Linked DNA regions of Homo sapiens: all the other regions are linked to region 2. The links come from fine-mapping of genetic effects on gene expression. A gene starts in region 2. Each other region holds a variant in brackets. All regions are shown on one strand. Distances are between the middles of the regions. Region 1 overlaps JMJD1C (jumonji domain containing 1C). Region 2 holds the start of NRBF2 (nuclear receptor binding factor 2). Region 3 overlaps JMJD1C (jumonji domain containing 1C). Region 4 has its middle 20 kb from the start of JMJD1C.

The links.
Region 1: its variant is fine-mapped to the expression of NRBF2 in whole blood (INTERVAL, PIP above 0.99).
Region 3: its variant is fine-mapped to the expression of NRBF2 in whole blood (INTERVAL, PIP above 0.99).
Region 4: its variant is fine-mapped to the expression of NRBF2 in whole blood (INTERVAL, PIP above 0.99).

The regions. Positions count from the first base shown.
Region 1 is chr10:63,263,512-63,270,980 of GRCh38, forward strand. JMJD1C (jumonji domain containing 1C) reads right to left here. Exons shown (of 26, transcript NM_032776.3): 3 at 1,140-1,253. Among named protein-coding and RNA genes, the nearest start is that of MIR1296, 110 kb to the right of the region's middle. RefSeq lists enhancers at 5,042-5,567, 5,568-6,091, 6,407-6,907, 6,908-7,408. The variant G/C (reference allele first, on the strand shown) is at 3,587.
Region 2 is chr10:63,129,043-63,136,511 of GRCh38, forward strand. NRBF2 (nuclear receptor binding factor 2) reads left to right here and starts at 4,286. Exons shown (of 4, transcript NM_030759.5): 1 at 4,286-4,458. The coding sequence starts at 4,429. RefSeq lists silencers at 4,103-4,352, 4,563-4,832.
Region 3 is chr10:63,333,334-63,340,802 of GRCh38, forward strand. The region is part of intron 2 of JMJD1C (jumonji domain containing 1C); the gene reads right to left. Among named protein-coding and RNA genes, the nearest start is that of MIR1296, 36 kb to the right of the region's middle. The variant G/GA (reference allele first, on the strand shown) is at 4,275.
Region 4 is chr10:63,482,041-63,489,509 of GRCh38, forward strand. It overlaps a transcript of JMJD1C not described here. Among named protein-coding and RNA genes, the nearest start is that of JMJD1C, 20 kb to the left of the region's middle. The variant AAAAAAAAAAAAAAAC/A (reference allele first, on the strand shown) is at 4,114.

The sequences.
Region 1 (7,469 bases), 130 kb after region 2:
CTCCATTAGAAAAAATTTAAACTGGTTCACTCATCCTTTCTTTCCATGCAATTACTGTATTATTTTAAAACATCTGAGTAAAAAGAAATCTATAATATATCCATTTAATTCAACCTAAACTCTAAATATACAAATGAAGGCCAGGTGTGGTGGCTCACGCCTGTAATCCCAGCACTTTGGGAGGCCGAGGCGGGCAGACCACTTGAGGTCAGGAGTTCGAGACCAGTCTGGCCAACATTGTGAAACCCCATCTCTATTAAAAATACAAAAATTAGCTGGGCGTGGTGGTGTGTGCCTGTCATCCCAGCTGCTCTGGAGGCTGAGGCAGGAGCATTGCTTGAACCCAGGAGGCGGAAGTTGCAGTGAACCAAGAACGTGCCACTGCATTCCAGCCTGGGTGAAAGAGTGAGACTCCATCACGGAAAAAAAAAAAAAAAAAAATACACATACACACACACACACACACACACACACACACACACACACACACACACACAATTCTGTGAGCTTTACTTATACCTGAAAAAATTAACTGGTAATTTCAACAATCTTAAAAAATATTTAGCTTAATACTTTTGATGAGTTTCTTCACATAATTAAAAGCTAATAGTCAACTGGAAAATGTTTTCCTAATTAAATGTATTTGTATTTAAATTGCAATAATGGAGAACTGAAATTTATATATAAAATCATTCAATTACTGACAATCTAAAAAAATTTCCCCTTTAAAAAAAGAACTATTATGCTAAACTGATAGGTATACATAAACACTAATCTCATTTAATTATATTAATTTACCCAATTCTTAACGTTTAGCATTGAAGACAATTTATACTAATATTTAACCAATTATTTTCTAATAATGATTATTTAGAATGTCAGATACTTTATTTTGTTTACTTCTGTATTCCTTGCAACAGAACACTGCCTGGCTCATAGTAGGTTCTCAGTATATATTGTTAATTGAATTAATAAATCGTTTATCCTATAAGCAAAATCAACTGACTGCATTCATTGGGTTTTTCACACAACTAGAAGTTAGATGAAATGATATTTAAAGAATATTGTTTAAAGAATGTCTGAATATCAATAAAGTTTAATTAACCTTTAATTTTAAAAAGTAATCTAAAATTTCTTACCTGGTAGGGCTGAAAGGCACTATCTTCAGTTAAAAAATCCAGTTGCTTATCTACAAGGAATTCTACTGCAGTGACTGAACTGGGTATATTTCTTTCAACCAGAGGTTTGAAAGTCTGCCAAGAAAAAAAAAATTTCTAATGATAATTTTCTGGGTAGTATCCTGAAATTATGAAGGAACACACACCAATACAATGTATCAATGTCATTATCACTACAGAGTCTTAGGGTACCTAATATTAATTTTCATATTATAAACTAATGCTTTTATCTACACCATAAGGTATCTGTGTTTATTTAAAAGAAACAAACTAGATCTACATGTGATATGGGCATATTTGAGTATACTAAGTCCCAACTGTTTACTTTTAAAAAGGGATGTAATAAAATATGCATGTGTGTAAAAATGTCTGCTTAAAAAGAGAAATTGCTTTTGAAACAGTAAACTGGGTTGTAGAGCTATTTACCCCCACCTTTTTTTTTTAACTGTATTATTTCTTATTAAAGAGAGTAGTTATTATTTCAATGTACACTTTTTGTCTAGCTCATTCACATTAAGCAGGATTTTAAATGATCAGGAAGTATCTGGTCTTTTAACTCCACCCCTTGCACTCCCACCCCCGCCCCTGCACCAAGCACAGATAAAAATCCCGCAGCTTCGGTGAGAGAAGCATGGAGGAAGGGAGTAGAGAGAGTCCGGTAAGAAGTACTACACAAAACTCTACTTTGCAGTCAAGTCCAAATCTCCACTACTTCTTTTAAAAAAAGTCAATCCAAGGTCATTTGATTCCTTTAAGAAGATACCTTTAACATATGAGATTTAACTCGTATCTTGGGTGGGGATGACAGGGACAGAGCCAGGGTAGGAAGAGGAAGGAAACAGGGATACAATGTATAAATTTCTTTATGACTATCACACTCACTTTCAAAGTAGATGAAGATTAAATAAAATACAAGTGTCTTATATTCATGGTACTGTTCTAAAAACTTGAAAATGAAAACAAAATTCCACCATTTTAAAAACACAGCTGCTTTACTATAAAAAAATTTTTTAACTGGAAAAAAGTTCGGAAAACAGAATTAATAATCAACTCAATTTCTAAGTTACCTATATCACATGGAGAAATCTTTCTAGCTACAGGGTAATTTGTGTTAATATTTCCACACAAAACAAAGATTTTGGCATAGACAGTACAAATTACCAGGCATTTCAAAATCATTGTGTTTCCCCTTTCTCTTATTCTGTCTTAAAAAATATATAACATTTTGTTAATAACAATAAACATACTCCAGGGAAAAACTTCAAGATGTTTGGTTTGGAGTGGCTTTTAAGGAGTTAATTTCTATATTTAAGAAATTCCTAAGAGGAATTTCAGGTTGACTCACTGCAATCTGTAACAATGTTTCAAAGTTAAAAATTTAATATTAAATTTAAGCAAGTCTTATTTCTATGCTATCTACATCATGAAGTTACAAATAATATTTTCTTAATTAAAAAACAGGAAAAACTCTCTTATATTCTCACTTATTTTCGATATTTAAGATCAGAAAATCTAGTCACAGTAATATCCTCTCTCCCATATCCTAGGCTAACCTTTTAAGCACTCTATTATTTATCAAAATTACTATTATTTGGGTGAGAAATCACATTTTCAAAATAGAAAATCCTCACATTATTTAGCTATTTCCTTCTACTGTTATCATTTAACACTTTTCAATTACATAAAATCCTATAGGATTTCATAAAATCCTATTTATTATTTTACTTAAGTGACAAAAAGTTTGTAAGAAATTCAAGAGCATTTATTGTATTTAGGCTTTAAAAGTGTCCACCACTACGTGACCAATTGACATGAAATATGTAACATAAACAGGGATATTCGGCTGATCCCTACTGTAAAAAATGTTTTTTCATATTATATCTCTGTCAGTTTAGTTTTTAAGTAAACTAGAAAACACTGGCATCTTCTCAAGAGGACTTTTAATCCTTGAACATTATCAAATGATCTATTTCTTTTCAAACAGTACCATATCAGGTCAACTCATGAAGGTTAACAAAAAGGTCCACAAAAGGTATTATCTAAGTGGCTAAAGATACAATTCAATTAAGTAGGATTTGAAAAAGAAGTAAAGTTCTCCTTCTGGAGTGCCTCTTTCTTACGCAAATAATACAGGTGGCTTGCATTTCCTATGAGACCTAGTCATTTTATAATATGAAAAACATTCTTCTGAAGAGAGCTCTCCTTTTCAAGGTAGGCCAGAGTTCTAAGGGTAAATTTCAACAAGCCGACCAATGATTTAAATTATTCTAAGTTAATTTGAAAAAAGGATTTCTAAGCTAAAAAAATTCTCACGTTTTAAGATGTCTCATTGAAAGCCAAGTAAAATTTGGCTACCAGAAATCTAAGAAAACTAGCTGACAATGATCAAATTTGAATACTCTTACAAG[G/C]ACATGAGTACTTATAATCATTTACAAGTGGAAGTCCAAAGTATATCATGCTTCTTAAATAGCAAATAAAAAGTGCTGATAAATACTTTTATAGTATTTGTTAAAAGAAATGTTTCAATATTTATTAAATGAGAAACAGTGAATATGTGTGACTGCTCTACTTTAAGGAAAAATGAAAGGCAAACAACATATGAAGTGATATTAAAATACACCCCGGTTTTTTTAACTGGCAAAACAACCATGTTAAGTATTGCTAATTTTTGTATTAGTCTAGTACATTTCAAAGGAACATTATAAGTTTAAAAATAATAAAAAACATATTTAAATAAAAACAAATGGGTCCTACAGCTGGTATGATGAAATTTGTAGTAAATAGTTCATGGGTCTAGGTGCACTGGAATGTAAAGAAACTAGAACTCATGCATAACTAATTCAACACTCTAAAGATATATCATTCTATGAGTAACTTCCACAGCCTAAAGGGAAGCAATGAGCTAACATCTGATGAAAGTCACAGTAGAATATGGCCCTAATCACAAAAGACTATCATTCAAATGCTCTAAAAAGCCTTTGAAAACCAAAATGAAAATTACTAACACTAAATGTTCAGTTGAAACAAAATGCTTTTTCAATTTTATTAGAGTGAGAGTTTTTTTTAAGGTCATTTATCAGTGTTAAACATACTTTTTAAAAATAGTCTACGGCCAAAATAAATATAGTTGAGAGCCTGCATTTCTAGTAGGGCCTACCAAACTATAGGAAGAATGCTTAGAACAACTGTATCCTGTTTGGGGCTCCATGCTGCACCACATTCCATTCACATGAGGAAGACGCGAACAGATGAGCCCTCCCCGAAAAACATTTTTAAAATAAATCAGCTACAGCTCTTAAACACAACTCAGCTGCTCAAACAAACGATGTTAAAGCTCACCATTTCACATTTAACAGGAAATTCAAGGAGCTTATGTCTGCAGTCTTAGTTTCTAACAATCTCCGGTTAACAGTTAACAATTCCAAGTTAAAAAAAAAAACAGGCTTATTAACTGCAAAAATACTAATATAAATCTCACCAAAGGTAAATACTAAAGCAGAAAACAACCTAAGCAACATTTTAGAAGTTAAGATTTAGTCTACCAAAAAAAAAAAAAAAAAGGACTGGAGTGACTTGAAAGAACAAAGTCCAAATTCCCACCCAAGCAGGTCTATTGAAAAACACGATACTGTTAGAAAACAAGTTGGGGGTGGGGAAGGGAATAACCAAAAAAAAACCTTACAAAACAAATACCCCCACTTTCCTTGAAACACTAGTCTGAAAATCCTAATTTGAAGCACTTCTGCCATAATACTTTAAACAATTAAACTCGTTTTTTAACATTTACAGTTATTAAATTACTACAAACACAATAAACCTTTTTAAACAAATGAAAGTTAAAAATTCTTAAAACTAAAAACATTGAGGCCAGATCTTTTATAAAAGGCAGTGACCTTAATTTCTCAGGCTGAGAAGAAAAACCAAATGTAAATTAAGACAAAAGAAAAAGGAAGCAGAAAAATACAAACCGTACTTTGTTCTTGAGAATTTTAAAGTATCTTTAAATCTCAGAAATCCACAACAAGGCTTTAAAGGTCAGTAAGTATTTGCTGAAATTTCTATTTTGTTCTGGAAGAGTATCTAGTGTAAATACTTCTTTAGTCTTCAAAAATCACAGGCAAATGGCTCTCAAACCAAGCATTTCTGAGCTCACTTGCAGCGGCGTCATTGTATAGGAAGAAAAGCCAAGACCACAGAACGAAGCAGGAGCTGTAACCTAACAAGTCTCCAACGAGCAAATGACGATTTTCTGTCTGCTCTGGCTCAGCCCTGGCAGTGATGAGGATTACAACTCGCTCTTTGTCATCAGCACTGTGGTGTTAACGACTAAGAAATCCTGCAGCTGAAGCACTACTGCATCCTCCGATCTGGGTCAGGATAATTTCTCTCGAGGTCGCTTACATAACCAGTAAGATACTCCAAATAAAGAGAACAGCCATCCATCAGCTGGAGAAAGCCTTTCCCACTGTACTCTGTCTGCGTGGAAACACAGTGCAGTAGCTTCCAACAGTGCAGACACCCAAATGAGAACGAGTACTTGGCTTAGGGCACACTGAGAGAAGGGAAGAGGCGGTGCTCTGTAAACTGTAACTAATCCCCCGTCACAGGTGCTGATGGAGTCACTTCCAGCACGAGTCACATTACTAGTGATTACTCATTTGGCTGCGGCCATAGAGACTGGCTCATAATTTTAACAACAGACAAAGACAGACTAGTGGCGAGACTGAAAGCTCAAGTTTACTGTCTCCTTCATAAAGCAAATGCAAATACTAAGTTTTTGCTTTCCAGATTTACCAAGGTGAGAAAGTGCAGAAAAGAAATAACATGTGACTATCTCTCAAGTTGGTAAAAATAAAGCATCAAATATACTTTGTATGTTTTTGGGCACGATTTATTTATTAGTATAACCATTTTGCCTTAAAAATATTAAAAACTTCAAAATAAATCAATTTAAAATATTTTTAGACAATGATCTCAACAATCTCATAGGCATTTTACTAAAAAAAAACTGGTAATATTTATTTTGGTAGATTTGAAAATATTCCTCAACCATTTTCACTCATTACAAAAAACAACTTAACCTAGATAGTTCTAAGATACAATTTGAAAGCATAAAATGCATTTCTCAGATGTGTTATATAATATAGTCTCTTAACATCTATCTAAATTCTAGAGTTCTGCTGTCTGATGTTGTCCAATATGGTAGTTACTAATCATATGTAGCAACTGAGCACCTGAAATGTAGTTAATCTGAATTGAGATGTGTGATGTACAAAATACACATTGAATATAAAAAAAATTAAGAGGTATCTCATGAATAATTTTATTTTGATATGCTAATATTTTGACATATTGGGTTAAATAAAATACTGTAAAATTAATACACCTATGTTAAAATTTTGATGTAAAGACAATTTAAAATCACACATGTAGCTCACATTTTATTTCTACTGGACAAGAATGCTCTAATAGTAAGTTCTCTCTCTATTTTTTGGAGGACGTAGTCTTGCTCTGTTACCCAGGCTGGAGCGCAGTGGCATGATCTCAACTCACTGCAACCTCTGCCTCCTGGGTTCAAGCGATTCTCCTCCCTCAGCCTCCCAAGTAGCTGGCATTACAGGGACGCACCACCAAGCCCAGCTAATTTTTGTATTTTTAGTAGAGACAGGGTCTCACCACATTGGCCAGGCTTGTCTCAAAAACTCCTGACCTCAGGCTATCCACCCGCCTCGGCCTCCCAAAGTACTGGGATTACAGGTGTGAGCCACTGTGTCCAGCCTCTTCTTTTTTTTTTTGAGACAGGATTTTGCTCTGTTGCCCAGGCTAGAGTGCAGTGGCGCGATCTTGGCTCACTGCAATCTCTGGCTCCTGGGCTCGAGCGATCCTCCGACCTCAGCCTGCCATGTAGAAGGGACTACAGGTGGGCATCACCATGCCTAGCTAACTCTTTGTATTTTTTGTAGAGACAGGGTTTCACCATGTTGTCCAGAATGGTCTGGAACTCCTGAACTTAAGCGATCCACCCACTTCAGTTTCCTAAAGTGCTGGGATTTCAGGCATGAGTCACCCTGACAGGCCTTATAGTAATTTCTCGTTTCATAGTGGAGACTTACGTGATGATATGAGACTGACTTTGGCTACTCAATAAATCAAAGAGCAGAGATGGAATGGAATATAAATTTGTGGCTCTATGTAAAACATCAGGTTATGTCTATTAATTTGTCAGTATAATTAAATTTTAACCTTTAGAGCATCCAGCGAAAATTTGTAAGTTTCTGACTTAGAGCAGGA
Region 2 (7,469 bases):
AGATGTGAAATCTTTCATTTGTATGTGCCAGATATTTTGTATTACTCTTTCCAGATCCGGTCTCTACTTCTTACTACCCTGCTCCCTGCCCTTGGAGGCTGATTTTTATGAATTACATCAATGGGCTCCCTTGCCTTCTGGCTTTTGATTGGGTTTGGACAATGGAAGTCAGGGGAAGAGGAAATAAGGTGATTTCCCTGGATCCTCCCTGCAAGGTCACCTCAGGATAGTGTCCTTGATTGAAGGTCAGTGCTTCTTCAAACTATATTCTACATTTTTCTCCTCATTTCAGATTTCCCTCTTATTCATTTCTCTTTCTTTTTTTTTTTTTTTTTTTTTTTTTTGAGACAGAGTCTTGCTCTATCTCCCAGGATGGAGTGCAGTGGTGCGGCCTCAGCTCACTGCAACCTCTGCCTCCCAGGTTCAAGTTATTGTCGTGCCTCAACCTCCAGAGTAGCTGGGACTATAGGCATGTGCCACCATGCCTGGCTAATTTTTGTATTTTGGATAGAGATGAGGTTTCGCCATGTTGGCCAGGCTGGGCTTGAACTCCTGGCCTCAAGTGATCCGCCCACCTCTGCCTCCACCTCCCAAAAGTGCTGAGATTACAGGTGTGAGACACTGTACCCAGCCCCTTCTATTTCTTTCTTTATAGCCTAGGAGTTATTGCTTTTCTCATGTAAATACCTAAACTCTGGCCACACCTTTGTAAAACAGTCCGTTTATTAAACCCTTCTGGGATTATTTTGAGTATGTCATTGATTTGCTTTAGATACAATGCCTCTGGTAGTCTCAATAATGGTCCGAAAGATACCCAGGTCCTAATCTGTGGAAGCTGAGAATGTTACCTCATATGGCAAAGGGACTTTGTAGGTATGATTAAGTTAACCTTGAGATAGGAAGACTATCTTTAACTATTTTGTGGACCAAATGTATTCACAGGGTCCTTACTAGAGGGAGGCAGAAGGATTTTAAGAGGAAATGACATGACAAAAGCAGCAAGAGCTTTGAAGATGCAGTGCTGCTGGCTTTGAAGATGGAAGAAGGGGCTGTGAGTCAAAGGAATGCAAAGAATGTAGCTCCAGAGGCTGGAAAAGAAGGGGGCAAGGCCTTGCTGTATACCTTTGTTTTGGCGCTATGAAATTATTTTGGTCTTGGCCGGGCATGGTGGCTCACGCCTGTAATCACAGCACTTTGGGAGGCCGAGGAGGGTGATTCACGAGGTCAGGAGATCGAGACCATCCTGGCTAACACGGTGAAACCCCGTCTCTACTAAAAATACAAAAAATTAGCCAGGCGAGGTGGCAGGCGCCTGTAGTCCCAGCTATGTGGGAGGCTGAGGCAGGAGAATGGCGTGAACCCCGGGGGTGGAGCCTGCAGTGAGCCAAGATCGAGCCACTGCACTCCAGCCTGGGTGAAAGAGCGAGACTCCGTCTCAAAAAAAAAAAAAAATTATTTTGGTCTTCTAGCCTCCAGAACTGCTAGCCTCCAAATTTCTGTTGTTTTAATCCACTAAATGGGTAGTAACTTCTTACAGCAGTCATAGGAAATTAATACAGTGCCCAAGATAGAACTTTTCATTTTCCATACAAATTAGCTCCTTCCTATTGTTACCAGGGGGTCTTTGTTCTTAGAGCTCCCAAGATGGTGGCAGGCCACTTCCAAGATGGCGGCAAGCCTTTTGTTCTCTGACCTGGGGTTCTTGGCCTCACGGATTCCAAGGAATGGAACCTTGGGCCATGCAGTGAGTGTTATAGCTCTATTAGAAGCCGTGGGTCACAGAAGAGAACCGTGGAACCCAGCAACTAGTGTTCAGCTCGATTAGGACAAACCCTGGGCACTTAGCCTTGCAGGAACAATGGCGAGCCTCTAGCCCGATTGGGAGCAGCAATGGGCGCCTCGCTGGATCAGGAGCACAGTGGACACCCTGATGGATCCAGAGGGGTGGAAGTCAGCGGCGGGTCTGTGATGGCAGCAAACAGCGGTGGTGGACGGTGAGTGAAAGCTCAGCTCAAGCTGTAACAAACATGGACCAGAAGAGTGTGCAGTTGCAAGATTTAATAGAGTGAAAACAGAGCTCCCATACAATGGGAGGGGACCCAAAGGGGGTTGCCACTCCCTGCTCGAATGCCTGGGTTTATATCCTGATCATTGTCCCTCCCCCTGTGCTCTCAGGCGATATATGATTTGACTATTTCTTTACCTTCTGCTTCTAGCCTAATTTGTATTTTAGTGAGCCCTCTTTACTACCTGATTAGTCGGGTGTGAACTGAGTTACAAGCCCTGTGTTTAAATGTGGGTGTGGTCACCTTCCCCAGCTAGGTTTAGGAATTCTTAGTTGGCCTAGGAAATCCAGCTAGTCCTGTCTCTCACTATCTTGTCCACTTGGTTGTTTACTTTTTTATTTTTTTATTTTTAGAGACAGAGTCTCTCTGTGTCACCCAGGCTGGAATGCAGTGGTGTGATTGGTCTCAGCTCACTGCAACCTCTGCCTTCCAGGTTCAAGCAATTCTCCTGCCTCAGTCTCCCCAGTAGCTGGGATTACAGGCACGCGCCACCACACTTGGCTACGTTTTAGTGCTTTTAGTAGAGATGAAGTTTCACCACGTTGGCCAGACCAGTCTCAAACTCCTGGCCTCAAGTGATCTGCTCTCCTTGACCTCCCAAAGAGCTGGGATTACAGGGGTGAGCCAGTGTGCTAGGCCACTTGGTTGTTTAAATACGAGATTTGATTCTTCCATTTTCTGTATGCTTTACTGCCATTCCATCACTAACTCCTCTCAACCTGATGCCCAAAAATATATCTTGAATATATCTACTTCTCTTCCAAGGTTTCCGGCACATGGTAGAAACATGATAACTATGTAATGAGTGGATGCATGACCCAATCTTCCCTACTTCCATTCCAGTCTGAGCGCCCATAATTAGTCAATCAACTAGCTTGTCTTGGTTCTTTTTCCTTAGGCCTTCCACAATCTATTCTTCACATTACAGGGAAATTAATCTTTTCAAAACTGTAAATTAAAGCAGATTATTCTCTAGCTTAATATCCTTTACTTATTTCCCAATGCACTTTGAGTAAAATTCAAATGTTTCATTGTGCACTGCAAGGACACCTATGTTTTGGAAGTTTCCTATCTCTCTGGTATCTTCTTTTGCATCTCTCTGAAATGCTGCAGCTCCCGCCACCCGACCTCCCCGCCTTTAGAGTTGAGGCATAAGACATTTCCTTTGTCGAGAAGGGTCTTTGTTTAACTGGCATTTTAAGGTTTAATCTTAAAGATTACGCCCTTAGCCAGGTGCGGTAGCTCATGCCTATAATCCCATCAGTTTGTGAGGTCCAGGAGGGCGGATCATTGAGCTCACTTGAGCTCAGCAGTTCAAGATCAGCATAGGCAACATGGCGAAACCCCATCTCTACAAAAAATACAAAAATTAACCTGGCCTGAGCACTTGTAGTTCCTAGCTACTTAAGAGACTGAGGTGTGAGGATCGCCTGGGGCAGGGGGCGGGCAGAGGGAGGTTGCAGTGAGTGGAGATTGCGTCAGCAAGACACTTTCTCAAAAAAAATCACGCCCCCCATGAAAGGCTTTCCTTTACCACCCAACTCCACCTTGGTTACTCTATCACAGCTCCCTATGTGTTCCCTTTCCAGCATAAATCACAACTATTTGTCAGTGAATTCCATGACAGAACGAACCTAGCTTTTGTTTGGCACATAATTGTTAAATGAATGCAGTATTATATTTGGCTAGACCAAAATTGTTTCCCTATCAGTTTGTGAGCAACTTGAGGGCAGAGCCCTAAATCATTCGAGTGTGCTGACCTCTAGGGGGGTTAGTCCAGTGCATGGTCTAGAATTGCTCAAATCGGCCTTTTGAAAAAATGAATCATGTACAATGATAAAGGTGTGGACAGGACCACAAGTAACGGTGTAACGATTAGCAGATTTAAGGAAAAGTCAGTCTAAAAGGAAACGTGAGAAGCTAATTGCAGAAGACAGCCATTTCAAGTCTTCAACAGCAAGGCTGTACCTCCTCACGTGACTTCAGTGTAGACTTTAAGAACCTAAACTAACGCTTCTCGCGAGAGGAAAGATTGACCGCTCGCAAGCGTACATCAGCTGGTGCCCCGCCTTCCCTGGGCCCCACCCACTGCCTGTCCTCATTCCCACCTTGAACCAGCCTTTTGCGCGTGTGACGTCATGGCGCCGTGCGTGGCCTCGGCGGTGGCGCAGGGGGCGGGCCCGCGGCGCGGCGCCGGAGGAGGAAGTGGTGAGGTTGTTGCTCCTTCAGCGCCTATCGCTGGCTCTTGGGGCGCAGAGAGGGGCCGCAGTCTCCGCGGCTGCGTCGAGCTCCCTTGCAGTCCCCTCCATGTTCCCCGGCGCCACTACTCCCCTTCCTAAGGCCGCCGCTTACCCCGGGGTCTATGGAAGTAATGGAAGGACCCCTCAACCTGGTGAGTGTCCCACAGAATATAGCGTTCGTCTTGGGTGCCTTTGCCTCAGGAGCCCGGCCCCGTCCCCGGCGCGTCGGCTAACCCTTTAGGCTGGGAGGTTGGTTTGGCAGGAGTGGTCGCAGAGGCTGTGAGGGGCTGCTAGGCAGGCCCTGGCCCAACTGCGGCTCCAGGCTAGCCACTTCAGACTTTGCCCTCCTGGGGGATCCCCGGGAAGTCCTGGCGCCCCCTGTCGCGGGGCCCCGGGCGAGGGGATGCCACCACCTGGGGCTGCCACCTCCTCTCTGGCTGGGGGAAGTCCTCTTAGCGCCACGTAGCCACCTCCCTACAGCCTGGAGAGGCACTGAAGCCGGCCAAGGCAGAAATGGTGTGATACTGGTTTTAAGTTCTAGCAGCAGGGTCTGAGTCTGAGTCGCCCCGCTTTGGAGAGGTGGAGGAGTGAATAGCCTCCTCACCCTCCACTTCCCCCTCCTCACCCTTCACTTCCCCCTCCTCACCCTCCACTTCCCCCTCCTCACCCTCCACTTCCCCCTCATTTCTCACATACATTCACATGCATAAACTGAGTCTACCGTCTTCCAAATATATTAGAGACAGCTGGGAAAAAGACAGCCGTTCCTGTATTTAGCTCAGATTCATCAATTTAGGCATCATGAAAGTGTAATAGGTGTTTGCTGTTCTCAGGAAAATGGCTGATAGCCTGTTTACTTGTGTTTTAAGGCGTTTCAGGTGTTGCAATTAAAAAACAACACAACAGAACCCCACTAACAACGGGAAGCATGAGTTCTTTTCAGACTGGCCATTGCATCTTTTAGTTTTCCAGAGAGGTTACCCATTTTGGATGTAAAAGTCAGATTACTTAAGGTTGCACACAGGAAGAACTTTTGAGTCACAGGTTTGCAATTCATTTGCGATGGTGGAATTGAAAGAAAGCTCTATAGAGGATTCTTTTCTCACATTAGAACTCTGAGTCCTAGAAGAGCAGTAGAGTCAGGTGGTTTAAGACTCTAGGTTTTGAAGCTATGCTGCTTGGATTTGAATTCTAACCTCGTCACTTGATATCTGTGTTACCTTGGGCAAACTACTTGGCTTCACTCGGCTTCAGGTTTTTTGGGAGGATTAAAGGAGTAAATAGGTGTAAAGCACTTAGAACTGTACTAAGTACATAGTACAGTGTAAGAGTTAGCGATTATAACCAGACCATAAGCCCTTAATTTAAAATCTATTTGTAGAATAAAGGTTTGGACTTGAGCTTTAAAAGCCTAAGATTCTCGGACCAAATCACTGGTGCCAGGTTAACTGTTGTGAGGCGCCCCTCCCTTTTAAGTTGGGTCTTGCCCCAGGTGGTAGGTATTTACACTTAAGACGAATTGGACTACATTTGCGAGTTTTTTTTAACCAGGGAACTGGCCAGGCGCCGGGGCTCACGCCTGTAATCCCAGCACTTTGGGAGGCCGAGGCGGGCGAATCACTTGAGCTTAGAAGTTCGAGACCAGCCTGGGCAACATGGCGAAACCCGGTCTCTACAAAAAATACAAAAATAGCCTGGCGTGGTGGCGCCCGCCTGTGGTCCCAGCTACTCGGGAGGCTGAGGTGGCAGGATCGCTTGAGCCCAGGAGGTGGAGGTTGCAGTGGGCCGAGATTGTGCCACTGCACTCCAACCTGGGCGACAGAGCGAGACTCTGACTCAAATAACCAGGGAACTGTCTTGCACTTTTCTTGTTTTTAAGGCGACATATAGTTGGCAATGAAATACAGTGGATGGCTCAATACTGAAACTTCACAGGAGTATTACTAGAAATAATCAGCTGTTTACGAAGTGCTTCAGAGTTCAGGTGTCCTTGCCAAATGAGCATTGGTTCAGTTCTAGTTAGCTTCACATTATTTGGCTGCAGAATAACCCCCGCCAACTGCCCCACGAATGTGTGATGTTTTAAAAGGAGACTAGAACTGGGTGACAGTTGCAGATAGAACTGCAGAATCACTACCAGTTCAGGAAAAATTAGTTAAATGGTGGCAATACCATTTAAATTCTCCTCCATAAAACGGAGCGAGTTTCGACAGAGTCTTTTTAAGCAGGCTAGCGTAACTCCGTATTTCAGCCATAAAATTTATGTAGGCAAGTATCAGAAATTTGGCATCTTGAATTCTTTTTTTTTTTTTTTTTTGAGATGGAGTCTCTCTCTGTCACCAGACTAGAGTGCAGTGGCGCGATCTCAGCTCACTGCAACCTCCGACTCCCTGGTTTAAGCGATTCTTCTGCCTCAGCCTTCTGAGTAGCTGGGATTTCAGGCACGCGCCGCCACGCCCAGCTAATTTTTGTATTTTTAGTAGAGACGGGGTTTCACCATGTTGGCCAGGATGGTCTCGATCTCCTGACCTCGTGATCCCCCCGCCTGGCCTCCCAAAGTGCTGGGATTACAGGCGTGAGCCAGCGTGCCCGGCGGACACCTTGAATTCTTAAACCATTTGAGTCTTGAAAGATCTAATTTCCAGCATAGTTGTTTATTGGAAGGTAACAGTAGAACAGACGTTGACGGTTACTTGAATGAGTACCAATTACAGGCCTCTGGCACTCAGAATTGTCACTCACAGTTTTATAAGATGAGGTTTTTGAAAATTCAGACTTTTTTTTTTTTTTTTTTTCTTTTTTGAGACGGAGTCTCGCTTTGTCACCCAGGCTAGAGTGCAGTGGTGCGATCTGGGCTCACTGCAGCCTCCACCTCCCGGGTTCAAGCAGTTCTCTGCCTCAGCCTCCTGAGTAGCTGGGATTACAGGCATGCACCACCCTGCCCGGCTATGAAAATTCTGACATTCTTTTATGTCAGTGAACACCTAACTTAGTATCTAGTTGACTCAAGATGAGAGTTCTCAATGCTATAATTTGAATGTCTTTGAAAATTCCACTAGTATTATACAAGCTTTTTCTTTTTCTATACTCAGAGAGTTACTAATGCAATAAGCTTTGTCAAATGACGTCGTAGTGTAGTCCAAATTCATTGTATAAGGACTTA
Region 3 (7,469 bases), 200 kb after region 2:
CCCTTGAACTTAGGAGTTGGAGAACAGCTCAGGCAACAGGGCGCAACCTCCTCTCTACAAAAAATAAGAAAAATTAGCCAGCCATGGTGGCTGTGGTCCCAATGACTTAGGGGACTGGAGCAGGTGAAGGGCTTGGCCTACGAGGTTGAGGCTGCAACGACTGCACTCCAGCCTGGACAATAAAGTGAGACCCTATCTCAAAAAAAAGAAAAAAGAGAGAGAAAGAAAGGCAAAACACTATTACTGACCATAAATGTCTCCCAAAGCATGAATCTGAATAAAATGTTACCATCTTGTGGTAAACTCACTCACTGCTCTGCAAAAACTTCTAATTTAATTGTAATCTACATGACAATTATGAGGCAGAAACCTAGGAGCATTGCCCACATAATTATTCTTCTGTAAAAAAACGAAGAAAAGGCTTCTACACTATCTCTTCATTTGAGCACTTAAAATTGTCAGAGACTTTTACAATCCTTGCAAATGAAACATAAGGGTCATTTCACCTTGATATAATTTCTTAGTTAAATTTTGAATATTTAAATACAATTTTTCCAGCAAAATATCTGTATCTATAGACAGTTTTCTAAATCCAAATACCAAAATGAAAACACAAAGCAGATCAATTAAAAAAAATAATGTATTAGAATCAGAGGCTATTTGGTATACTGATAAAAAGAAAGTAAGTAACAGAAGTGATTCACTGCACTCCTAAATAACCTTCAGAGACTGTACTGACACAAGGCTTGTCACAAAATACATTAGATGCTGACCCAAGAAGAGGTGGTAGACATACTCCATTATTCTTCAGCATGTACCACTTTTTCAGTACTGTTAAATGTGATTAGAATCACAAGTTTTGATGAATAAAGGAGACAGAGGACATGGTTTTTTCTGTTTTCTTCCGAATATAAATTTGTGTTCAATTTTAAATGACTGATGTAACTCTTTTTACATTAGGGAAAAGACATGTAATTTGGATTTCATTTAATAAATCAAATCATACCACCTTAATGTTCATTAAAATACTAATGAACACAGATGAATATGATCTATACTTCTATATGTCAGGAATACACTACAGAGATTTTGGAGTTTTAAAAAATTATCTATTTTGTTGTTAAATCTTGTTCCACCAAATACTTTGGGAGGTCTAGGCAGGTGAATAGCTTGAGCTTAGGAGTTCAAGACCCGCCTGAGCAACATGGTGAAACCCTGTCTCTACAAAAAATTCAAAAATTAGCCAGGCGTGGTGGTATGTGCTATAGTCCCAGCTACTCGGGAGGCTGAGTTGGGAAGATCACCTGAGCCCAAGAGGTGGAGGTTGCAGCGAGCTGAGATTGTGCCAATGCCCCCCAGCCTGGGCAACAGAATGAGACTGTGTCTTTTGAGACACAGACTCAAACTCGCTCTGTCACCCAGGTTGGAGGGGTGGCGTGATCTCAGCTTACTGCAACCTCCACCTCCCGGGTTCAAACGACTCTCAGGCCTCAGCCTCCCAAGTAGTGGGACTACAGGTGCGCATCACCACATCCGGCTAATTTTTGTATTCTTAGTAAAGACAGGGTTTCACCATGTTGGCCAGGCTGTTCTTGAACTCCTGACCTCAGGTGATCCTCCCGCCTCTGCCTCTCAAAGTGCTGGGATTACAGGCGTGAGCCACCATGCCCAGCCAAGACTCTGTCTTTGGAAAAAAATAAAAAAAAAAAAAAATATTGTTCCTAACTAAGGAGTTCCAGTCCTTCACAAAAAAGAACTGACCCAGAAAAATGGAGACACTACCTCACAGGTAATAAGGTCAGACAAAGCAGTCTGACAAAGTGCCTCTGAATGTTGCTATCAGAGATTGTTGTTCCAGGTCAGACACAGCAGTCTGTCAAAGTGCCTCTGAATGTTGTTATCAGAGAATGTTGCTTCAACCTGAACAATGAAAGCTGTAAGACAAACAACCTGGATACCCTGTTTAAAAATGGTGATAATGTAGGCATGGGGGCAAAGCAATGCAAAAAAAGACCTCTGCACTACCATATGTTGAGAATATAAAGAAGTGCTTAATATTCCAGTTAAAAAGCTAAATATTCCATTTAATATTCAGTTAAAAAGAAAATTGATTCCAAATATAATTCCCCTTAAAAGTTGGCATTTTCACTGCAATGTGCAATCTGAACCATCATACTTGTTTTTTTGTTTTGTTATGAGACAAAGTCTTACTCTGACGCCCAGGCTGGAGTGCAGTGGCACAATCCCGGCTCACCGCAAGCTCCGCCTCCAGGGTTCAAGCCATTCTCCTGCCTCAGCCTCCCAAGTAGCTAGGATTACAGGCACCTGCCACTGCAACAGCTAATTTCTGTATTTTTAGTACAGACGGGGTTTCACCATGTTGGCCAGACTGTTCTTGAACTCCTGACATCAAGTGATCTGCCTGCCTCGGCCTCCCGAAGTGTTGAGATTACAGGCATGAACCACGGCGCCTGGCATAATATTTTCCTAAAAAAAAAACACTTTGGCTGGGCACCGTGGCTCACGCCTGTAATCCCAGCACTTTGGGAGGCCAACACAGACAGATCACCTGAGGTCAGGAGTTCAAGAACAGCCTGGGCAACATGGTGAAAACCCATCTCTACTTAAAATACAAAAATTAGCCAGGCGAGGTAGCTTGTGCCTGTAGTCCCAGCTACTCGGGAGGCTGAGGCAGGAGAATCACTTAAACCTCGCAGGCGGAGGCTGCGGTGAGCGGAGATCGCACCACTGCACTCCAGCCTGAGTGACAGAGTGAGACCCTGTCTCAAAAAAAATAAGAAAAAAAGAAAAAAACCACGTCTATGAAACACAAATATCTAATACCACCCTTAAAATTGTATTAACCATGTAATCTCAGCACTTTGGGAGGCCGAAGGCAGGAGGATCACCTGAGGTCAGGAGTTCGAGACCAGCCTGGCCAACATGGTGAATCCCCGTCTCAACCAAAAATACAATTAGCTGGACATGGTGGGATGTGCCTGTAATCCCAGCTACTTGGGAGGCTGACGCAGGAGAACTGCTTGAACCCAGGAGGCAGAGGTTGCAGTGGGCCAAGATTGCACTACTGAACTCCAGCCTGGGCGACAGAGCAAGACTCTGTCTCAAAAAATAATAATAAATAAATAAAACTACTTACCCAGATTTCAATCCTAATAATACATTTAATTTTCCATTAGTTTCCACATCACGATCCCTAAAGCTATTTCCTAGGATACTTTAAAATCTATAGAATAAATAAAAAAGAAGAATGAGATAGTTAATCTAAAAAACAAAGGACAAATATTATAAAGGGTCAGCACTCACCATCTGTCTCAATGACATCATCAAGGTGTTATGGCTGCTTGGTTTCACACAAATCCTATATTAGAAAACCCTGACAATCCGATATCAACTTGTCATTTTCCCTTATAGAAGAATGCAAATAAACAGAGTGTGAGCCAGGAAAAGCTAATTCCTAATTAGTGCCCACTGCATTCAACTCTAGCCCTCTTTTTTTGTTTGTTTTTTAAGACAGAGACTTGCTCTGTTGCCCCTGGAGTGCAGTTGCGTGATTTTGGCTCACTGCAACCTCCGCCTTCTGTGTTCAAGCGATTCTCCTGCCTCAGCCTCCCAAGTAGCTGAGATTACAGGTGCCCGCCACCACAATCAGCTAATTTTTGTATTTTTAGTAGAGAGGGGGTTTCACCATGTTGGCCAGGCTCGTCTCAAGCTCCTGACCTCAGGTGATCCGTCCACCTTGGCCTCCCAAAGTGCTGGGATTACAGGTGTGAGCCACCATGCCTGGCCAACTCTAGCCCTCTTAACTTCCAAGTTAAGAAATGCTTTGTAAAATCATAGAAACTCCACCATTGAGACCGGCACGGGCACCACTGAGACTGGGCACTTGAGACCAGCCTGGTCAATATGGTGAAACCCCATGTCTACTGAAAATATAAAAATTAGCCGGGCGTGGTGGCACACGCCTGTAGTACCAGCTACTCGGGAGGCTGAGGCAGGAGAATTGCTTGAAACTGGGAGGCAAACCTTGCAGTGAGCCGAGGTCTTGCCACTGTACTCTAACCTGGGTGACAGAGTGAGCCTCCGTCAGAAAGAAAGAGAAGGCGGGGGGGGGGGAGGGAGAGAGAGAGGGAAGGAGAAAGAAGAGAAAAGAGAAGGGAGGAGAAGGGAGGGGAAGGGAGGGGAGGGGAGGAGAGGACAAGAAAAGAAAAGAAAAGAAAAGAAAAGAAAAGAAAAGAAAAGAAAAGAAAAGAAAA[G/GA]AAAAGAAAAGAAAAGAAAAAGAAAAGAAAAAAAATCCGCTATTGTTCCTCACAGTAATCCACTAACAGTGGCAGTCCTGTTCCTTGGGGAAGCCTCATATAGATTACAGATTCCCTCATTCTTCCTACCACTTGAGGAAGAGCAAGCTGATGAGCCAGAAGATGTGTGATCATGCTCTCATGCCCTTTTCTCCCAGAGGTAAGGTATATTTAGTGACATTCTGTTGTTATTACTATAGTAAGAAATCTCTTCGCAAAGTATTTGATAATTTAAAATTGTAAACTAAAACCACTTCATATTCATTGTCTTAATCACCATAAGAATCTCAAGATGAAGATGTGGCAAGTAAAACTATAAGAGGTTAAATAACATACAAGCTCATAATCTTCATAAAGAAAGCTGAGAGTAAAACCCATGTCAGCTGACCACTAACCCAAGTTTTCTTTTCACAGCGGTAAAAGACCAACATAAATAAACAGAAATACTATTTCTAAAGAGTTTATCTGGAGCTCTTTAGAGTAAATCTGAATATCATCAGTTTTAAGAGACAGAGTCTCACTTTGTCACTCAGGCTGGAGTGCACTGGTGCAATCAGATCTCACTGCAGCCTCAAGCTCCTGGGCTCAAGCCATCCTCCTGCCTCAGCCTCCCAAGTAGCTGGGACTACAAATGTGCACCACCATGCCCAGCTTATTTAAAAAATTCTTATAAGATGGAGTTTCACCATGTTGCCCAGGTTGCTCTTGAACTCTTAGCCTCAAGAAATTATTCCATCTCAGCCTCCCAAAGTACTGGGATTACAGGCATGAGCCACCATTCTCAGCCCTTGATTTGGATCTTAATGATTTGTTTTGTTGTTGTTGCCTGGCTGTTTTTGAAACTTTTCAGATAAAATTTAAGTAGGCACCGCTAAGATAGACCTAGATATAGTGGCATCATTTCAAGGAAGCTTAAGGGCTGACTACACATGCTACATTAGCCACTACAAACTTTAAACATTTTGAATAATCAAATATCTTTCTGCTCCTTAGATTTTTTTTTTTTTTTTTTTTTTTTTGAGATAGAGTTTCGCTCTTGTTACCCAGACTTGAGTGCAATGGTGCAATCTCAGCTCACCGCAACCTCTGCCTCCTGGGTTCAAGCGATCCTCCTACCTCAGCCTCCCAAGTAGCTGGGATTACAGGCATGTGCCACCATGCCCAGTTAACTTTCTGTTTTTAGTAGAGACAGGGTTTACTCCATGTTGGTCTGGCTGGTCTTGAACTCTCAACCTCAGGTGATCCACCCGCCTCAGCCTCCCAAAGTGCTGGGATTACAGGTGTCGTGAGCCACTGCACCCAGCCTTTAGTTTAATTCTTCATCTTGTGTAGTATGAAAGATTATTGTTTCACTTTATGAAGATGTGAGAATGAGCAAATATGTTTTCTTCATCCCAAGAGGCCCCTTGTTTATGGTAAAAAAACAAAAAATATATTTCTATTACCATTCTACAAGCTGGTAGATACCACTTTACCACCTGCCTAACAGATCTAGCCAGCCCAACAGGGAGAAGATGGTACTGTATACACCAATGTAAAGGAGCAAAATAAGAGATTCACTGAAGAGACTTGCTGCACTAAGGCAAATACAGACATCTTAGGAAACAGTGCTGTAAGCAATTATATACTAGCTATATCCTGTATTTTTCTTTAAACCATTTCTCATTCTTAGACATAAGATCAAGAAAAGTGAGGGTGACAAAAAAAATAGAGCTTCAACTAAACCTTGAAAAAATAACACTTGCATATACACGGTATGAGAAAATGGTGGAGGAATGAACAAAACACATTGCAGGCTGAGATAATGACTAGAGTAGATGCAAAAACAAGAAATACATTAAGTATATAGGTTGAGGCCAGGTGTGCTGGCTCACGCCTGTAATACCAGCACTTTCAGAGGCAGGGATGGGAGGATCCCTTGAGTCAGGGAGTTCAAGACCAGCCTGGGCAACATAGTGAGACCACCATCTCTAATTTAAAAAAAAAAATTAAATGTAGGCCAGGCGCAGTGGCTCACGCCTATAATCCCAGCACTTTGGGAGGTCAAGGCAGGTGGATCACTTGAGGTCAGGAGTTTAAGACCAGCCTGGACAACATAGTGAAACCACGTCTCTACTAAAAATACAAAAATTAGCCGGATGTGGTCTCACAAACATTTTGTACCAGTAGCTCAGGTTCACTGCGGAGAAGCTGGACTGAATGATGACTGCAAGATTTTTTTACTCCTTGACAACTGTTCTAATTATCCTTCAGCTGAAATTCTCATTACAGGCATGCACCTGTAGTCCCTGTAGTCCCAGCTACTTGAGAGGCTGAGGCAGGAGAAATGCTTGAACCCAGGAGGCGGAGGTTGCAGTGAGCTGAGATAGCGCCACTGCACTCCAGCCTGGGTGACAGAGTGAGACTTCATTTCAATAAATAAATAATAAGTAAATTACACATATATAGGTTGGGCATCCCTAATCTGAAAATCTGATGTCTGAGCACCAAAATGACACCACATGTGGGAATTTCCACACCTGACCTCATGTGACAATTCACAGACAAAATGCAGGCATACAAACACACAGTTTATTCAGCAACCCTGAGGGAAAAAAAGACCCTCTCAGCCCCCTTTAGCTGCAATATATCTTTTCTGAATACGCCCAGATTACCCCACACATGTGTGCACATAAAGTTGGCCAAAATGGCACATACACAGGCAGGACATGACAATGGCAGGCTCCACATGGAGCCAAGACCTATGTGCATTGCTCACTGTGTGTGTGTGGTTTTTTGTTTTTTTACTTATTCTCTGCTCTGTGGTGTAAAGATACTATTGAAAATGTCAAAAAGTCCTTCAGATATTCCTACGGGTAACGGTTATTAAAAAGAGAGAAGGCATTTATGTTTATATCACAGAAAGTCAAGTTGTTAGAGAAACTGGAGAGCAGTGTAACTGTAACATGTCTTACAAAACAGTATGGTGCTGGCATGACCACCATATATTAATATAACGTGAAGAAACAAAAGGATAGGCCAGGCGCAGTGGCTCACCCCTGTAATCCCAGCACTTTGGGAGGCCAAGGCAGGTGGATCATCTGAGGTCAGGAGTTTGAGACTAGCCTGGCCAACATGGTGAAGCTCCATCTCTACTAAAAATACAAAAATTGGCTG
Region 4 (7,469 bases), 350 kb after region 2:
ATAGTAAGTCCCCACTTAATGTTGTGGATAGGTTCTTGGAAACCGCAACTAAATGAAAGGAGTACAGAAGGTTCTCCAAAGTTGTTTCAATCAACCTCATTTCCTTACGACATTGATGAGGAAAAAAAAATTGGTTTCATTATACATTGTTTCACTTTTTAAGTAGACGTTTCCAAGAACTTACCAAGACATTAAGGACTTAACTATTCACTGATGTGTTCTAGAGACAAGTAAATAATCAGAAAGTACTTAAACATTCTTGGTTAAATGTCAGTATAATATTTTAATAATATTGTGGTTAAGACAGCAAATGAGCCAGGCATGGTGGCTGACACCTGTAATCCCAGCACTTTGGGAAGCTGAGGCAGGCGGATCACCTGAAGTCAGGAGTTCAAGACCAGCCTGGACAACATGGCGAAACCTAGTCTGTACTAAAAATACAAAACTTAGCTGGACACAGTGGCATACACCTGTAGTCCTAGCTACTCAGGAGGCTGAGGCAGGAGAATCGCTTGAACTCAGGAGGCCAAGGTAGCAGTGAGCTGACATCGCGCCACTGCACTCCAGCCTGGGTGATAGAGCAAGACTTCATCTCAAAAAAAAGAAAAAAAAGAGAGAGAGAGAGACCCCAAACTTGAGCTACATTGCCTGACTTCTAATCCTAGCTCCACCATTTACTAGCTGTGTTACCATGCAAATCACTTGATCTCTCTGTGCTTTCTTATCTATGAAATGGGAATAATTCCTATATAAAGAAGCTGCTGTGCGTGGGGATCACATAATGAACACATAATATATGCATAGAACATAGTTGAGCAAAGGAAGCACTCAATTAACTATTGCTAAGAAAGGTCAGTAACAGCCCGTTTGCTTTTTTAAGAAATCAATGAAATGCTTCCTAATTTTTGAAAAATTAAATCTGTAATTACTATGTATGGTTAATCTAATCAATCATGACCATTTTGAAAAATCTCCAAATAACTCTAGTCTAAATAATTATCATCATAAAGGAACTCATCTCAAATTATAACTATAAAATCTAATGTAAAGTAACTATATGTCAATCAAAATAGTCTTTAAAATTGGTCAACTGGATTGTTCATTATTCATCATGAAAACAAGTAATTATCTGAGAAATTTACTAATTTTAGTTCCTCCATGAAAACCAATAGAATTTCAAGAGGATAAAACACCATTGTCAGTTACAGATAAAGTATGATAGATTAAAACAATCCAGACATTTCTACAAAGTATTTACCACAAAACATACCATAACATTAGTTTCCAAGTGAGCGGTTGCATAAGTCTAGATCAGAAAGTCTTAGCCTTCGCACTAGTAACATTTTAGGAAACATAAGTTTTGGAGGGGGAGGCTATCCTCTGTGCATTTTAGGAAGCTGAGCAGCACCCCTGCCTCTGCGCATTAGATTTCAGCAGTACCTACCTCCCCAACTCTCACCCTCCATGTGACAACCAAATGTGTCTCCAGACATTGTCAAATGACAATTGCTCTACTTTGTGAGAAAATTTTTGTTTATAACAAAGTAGCATTATAATAACAACCAACTTTCTCCCATCCCTCCCCCTTTTGCCATTTTTTGAAAACTTCACAAAAAGATGGATTATCTTCCCCAAATGCATTTTAGTATCTTGATTATACTTGCAAATGATATTGCTGCTGGCATCTATTTTATACTTACCTGATTCTCTGCAGAACCCAAAATAATGTAATTCATTTCTCAATAATGTATGTATACATTTTAACTGTGATTCATTTTTAATTTGTCCTTTCTTCATTAGGATTAAAAATTTTAATATCTTAAACCAGACACATTATGTTGCCAATCACTAGCACAGTACTTCAGTAAATGCACTAATACTTCTCAGCATGTCATAACTACTAAGCCTCTAATAAGCATTTAGCATGAATTATATCATTTAGTCCTAACAATAATCTGAATACATATTATCTCTACTTTTTCAGGTGAGGAAACTGAAGCTAAGAAAGAATAACATGCCTAAGTTATGAACATGACTTCACAGTGATAGGAAGTGACAGAACCAGGACTGGATTGCAAGCTTCCAAAGGCAGTGTTTATATTCACTAGCTGGGCATGGTGGCTCACTCCTGTAATCCCAGCACCTTGGGATGGATGGATGGATGGATGGATGGATGGATGGATGGATGGATGGATGGATAGATAGATAGATAGATAGATAGATAGATAGATAAGATAGATAGATAAGACAGACAGATAAAAATAAAAAAATTCACAACACCAGAATGATCCTAAGAACCACCATTTCAAAAACTCATAATGGACTTCGTATTTTTTGAGATCATACTGCTTTCCTCATTGAATAATTTTCAGTATGTAACTTCTAGTGTATGTAACTTTTCCAAATATATCCCTTTTCACGCTATTTATACCCTCCCACTTCAGAGCAAGCACAGCACTTATTTGAACTTCAATAGTGGCCTTTGTGATAGGATAATTTGTAGCTGAACTTGAGATTTTGTTAAAAAAATGGAGTTGAAAACATAAGATCTTGATGATCAAACCAATAAAAGCAGTGACAACCCTACTTTTACTGTCTCTTAACTTAAAAAAAAAGGCAAGAATAGATGTTTTACTGTCTCTTAACTTAAAAAAAATTGGCACTATCCATGCCAATTTATATATCTATCTAAAATTGATTATAATAAGTACTGTACATTTAATTTCTATTGAGCTTTGATTATGAGATATTAATGACATATTTCTGACAATGGCCAGACTCAAATAGAAAATAGAGGGGGGGAATAAAAGGAAGGAAGGAAACACTCACCTTTCCTCAGTTTTCCCGATTCCACTACTGCAAGGCCCTAGAGGCTCCAAAGGACACTAGAGCAAGCTAGGGTTCATGCTGCTCTCCCCTCCCCTAATTCACTGGAGGAGTGAATTAGGATTTGGCATTATGGGTTTAAAAAAAAAAGAAATCCAGAAATAGATGTAAACCCACTAAAGGGATGGTAACAACACTAGCCTCATAAAGATTAAAATAAATAATTTATTTATAAATTAAATTATAAATTTAATTAAATATTTAAAATGATTAAATAAAAAATTCAAAACAACTAGCACAGTGCCAGGCATATAAGTGCAGAGTAAATGCTAAGTGTTCATTGCTTTTTGTTTGTCTGTTTTTGAAATGAAACGCTACTAGAAAAACTTTTAAAACACAGATGAGAGTATCTATGGCTCTTCCTGAAATACTTACTGTGCTCTCCTCTTTCTATACCTATTCTTTCAAAATCCCCTTGCTATCAGGTTGTGCTCAGAGAATGCAAGCCTTTCTTACAGTCTCCATTTCTACCTCACAAGTCTTTATTCAGACAAAACAGCAGCAGGGAGAAAAAAAAGAAAAGAAAGAGAAAAGATCCCCTCTCCCCTTCAATGCTTTGTTTCTTTTTTTCTAAGCATGTGTGACAGTTTGATGTAGAATAATGAGTGACATCGTATCCTAGAAATAAAATTCTCAAAATTAACAAAGAGGTATTAAAAATAAATCCAAATTTACTCCATTTTGAGTTAGGAGAACTCATATTTGGAAAAGCATCACTGTGCATGTTTCATTTCCAGGACTGGGATTTGAAAGCAGTGCCTGGGGACCTTTGGCACAACATCCAGCACAGGGTAATTTTAAATAACAGTGCTATATGAATGAACTAATATTTTCCTTTATCTAACCAGCAATTAAATCTATTAACTTACTTAGTAAATACTTGCAAAGGGCCTACTGTATGCCAGGTACTGTTGCCTTGTACAGGGATCCAAAAGTGAACAGGACATATATGGCCTCTGTTCCCACCAAGTTGACAGCACAGTAGGGACAAGACAAATAAAACGGCCTATATAATTTAGTATCACAAAGTGAGAAGTCCAACAGAAGATATTAAATGGATGGATGGCAGCACACAGAAGGGGCAACTAATCCAGGATTGGGGTCAGGGAAGTAGTCAGAAAATAAGTGATAGACGTGACAAAGCCTGAAGAATGAATGAAAGTCAGCCAAAGACGTGGAGAAGGGGAAAGTAAAGGGCTTCAAGCAATTGTAAAAAAAAAAAAAAAA[AAAAAAAAAAAAAAAC/A]AAAAAACAGAAAACTTGAGAGAGCATGCCACATGTGAGGAAGTTTGAGAAATTCATTAGAGTATGACTGAAGCTTAGCACGTTTAAGGGACAGCAGGGGCAGGGGAGATTGGGAGACAGAAGAAGCATGGATAGAGCGAGTGCTGAGAGCTGAAGGTGGATATGTTAGCAGGGACCAACTGACCATGACCTGGTAAAAAGCACTTTGTGAAGCTGTATTTTAGACTAAAGGAAACTGAAGGCATTTAAGGACTTTAAGCAAGGAAGCAAAGGAATCAGCATTTAGAATAACTAATCTACCTGTGGCACGGAAAATGGATAGAAATAATTCAGTCTATTGAAATAAGCTTAATTTATCTCTTCCTGTAACTTTAATCCTTCCTCCTCTAATGGTACCTTACTATGGGCAATTAAAAATGTTTATATCTCTCTCATCTAAAAAAACAACAAACCCACCCACTCCCTTAACTGCATATCACCCTGCAGTTACCATTCTGTCTCTTAACTTACAGTACATTTCTTGAAAAGTGAACTGCATGACTTTCTCCAAATAACTCCAAATAACTCTGCATGGCTTACTCCTCACTTTCCTCAGAAATCTACTCTAATATTACCCTAAAATGGGGCTCTCTGAGCACTTTACATAAAATAGCACCACCTTCCACACCTGTGGCATTCCCTACCCCTTATCATCATCAGACACTATGGCCAAGGCGCTACACTAAGTACCTTACATGATTTCTATCATTAACAGTAATGATACGGATGAATAAAGTGAGGCTTAAAAGCTAACTTGCCAAAGGTCACAACATTTGCTAAATGCTGAAGCCAGAACTCAGATTTAGGTAAGTTCATGGTTGGCATCACAAAATTGAAGGAGGACAAAGATAATAGCTTCTATTTTACTTTCTGTTTGAAAAGAAGACAAGGTCATCTGTTAAGAATAAGAGGAAGGTATGATATAGGAAGTCTGAAGAGAATAAAGGAGATCTAAAATAGCCCCATGAAAAATGGGAGAATGGACTAGGAAGTATTAAAGGACTACCAGGCAAAATTAAGGACCCAGTTGAAATTACAAAATATGGATTTATAGTGACAATGACCTGTGTCATTTTTCATCAGGACCAAAGATGAAGGGGCAAGTAAAGCATATAGACAGTGATTCTCAACACAGGAGGGCTGGGGTGAACAATTTTCTCCCCTTGGGACATTTGGCAATGTCTGGAAACAATTTTGTTTGTCACAATCTGCAGGAAAAGAGTTGCTACTGGCATGCAGTGGATAGAGGCTAGGATGCTGCTAAACATCCTATAATGCCAAGGACAGCACTCTAGAACAAAGAATTATTTGGATCCAAAATGTCAATAGTGCTGATGCTGAGAAACACTGACTGATCCAGGTTGGCAGATTTCCTAGGCACATCAATGGGAAGACAAAGGGACAAGAAAGTTAAAAGACACTGATCAGAGTTAAGGTGATAGACCACGAAGGTGGGTAAGGCAAAGATTTAGTATGTGAGAGGCCTGACAGATCAATGAGGGGGACAAAGTGGCCTCTGTGTTTGAAATGTTCAAATGGCTGACATGTCATCAATGAGTGATCACTCTTAGGACATTACTACATTCATCGGGAATAATGTGATAGACTTTGCAGTTTTCAACTCTGAGTGACAGAGAAGAAACTATCGTTTACTGTGAAGTTGTATGAACCAACCAGGATGCTAGTTCACATTTGTTATTTCATTTATTCCTCATGTAATACTTCTAAGAAAGGTATATTATTCCAATTTCATAAATGAAGACACTGCGACACAGAGAGGTGAAAGTTAAGTGTATATGGTCATACGATGTGGATGACAGAGCTGGGATTCACCCCAGAATGAGTGAATCTCCAAATTCACACTTTCTGAACCAAAACGCAGGAGCCATGACTTACAAAAAAATGGGGTGGGAGAAGAGACTGGCCCATATGTTTACAGACATCTGTTTGCACACAAAGTACACACAGCCTCAGTACTTTATAGTCACGGCATAGATTTATGTATGCAAATACCTCTACTTCAAAGGAAGGCCCTCCTAATATGTGCCCTTATTTCAAACAAAGTGGTGATCCATCAGACCAGAAGACTTTAACCATGTGGAGCCTCCCTACAACTGGGAAAATAGTATTTGTAAATATTTTTAAAATATCAATGTTCTAAAGCTACCTTTCTTAGATTAAGACCAGTGTGGGAAAAAAATATGGTGCTTCTTTTTCTTAGGTAAAATATAAAACATACATTAGAGAAAAAGAAAAATCAACAAGGCTTTCCTAACGTTTCTTGAAAAACCATTAAGCCCAGGTTCTTTTCAAAATGAGTTGAAAATGAATGTTAAAAAAAAAAAACTGTACTATATTTAAAGATAACACTACTGACACTACACAGCAGGGACATGCTCTCAGCACTCATTATATCCATTTAATTAAAAAGACAGCAATAAAGAGAAAATAAAAATAGTGTTTTATATGACTTATATACGAGTAAGCTGAGATTAACTCTATCTTTCCCATTATTTGGCAACTGAAGATATGTTATAGTATGGCATAAAACAGCCTAATTTTGCTAAGGGAAATTGATAACCTGCAGTGGGTGTTGAGAGGAGCTTGAGGGTGCTGGTAATGTGCTGTTTCTTATTCTGGGTGCTGTTTATATGAGTGTGTTCAGTTTTTAAAAATTCATTGAGATATATCCTTATCACAGTCATGTGTCACATGACATTTTTTGGTCAATGACAGATGGCATATAGGACGATGGTCCCATAAGATTATGCTGGAGCTGAAAAATTCCTATCACCTCATGATGTCATAGCTGGCATTACATCCTAGCAAAACACATTACTCATATGTTTGTGGTGGTGCTGGGGTAAACAAACCTACTGTGTTGCTAGTCATTTAAAAAGTAAAAAATGAGGCCGGGCGCAGTGGCTCACGCCTGTAATCCCAGCACTTTGGGAGGCTGAGGCAGGCGGATCACCTGAGGTCAGGAGTTTGAGACCTGCCTGGCCAAAATGGCGATACCCTGTCTCTACTAAAAGTACAAAAATTAGCTGGGCATGGTGGCGGGCGCCTGTAATCTCAGCTACTCAGGAGGCTAAGGCAGGAGAATCACTTGAACCCAGGAGGCAGAGGTTGCAGTGAGCCGAGATCGCACTACCGCACTGCAGCCTGGGCAAAATGAGTGAAACTCTGTCTCAAAAATAAATAAATAAATAAATAAATAATATGAGTATAAGCTACAGCAGCAGGAGTCATGGCAGGTCAAGTGTTTAGAAAGCTTCTTCCACTCTTTCACCGAGTACTGG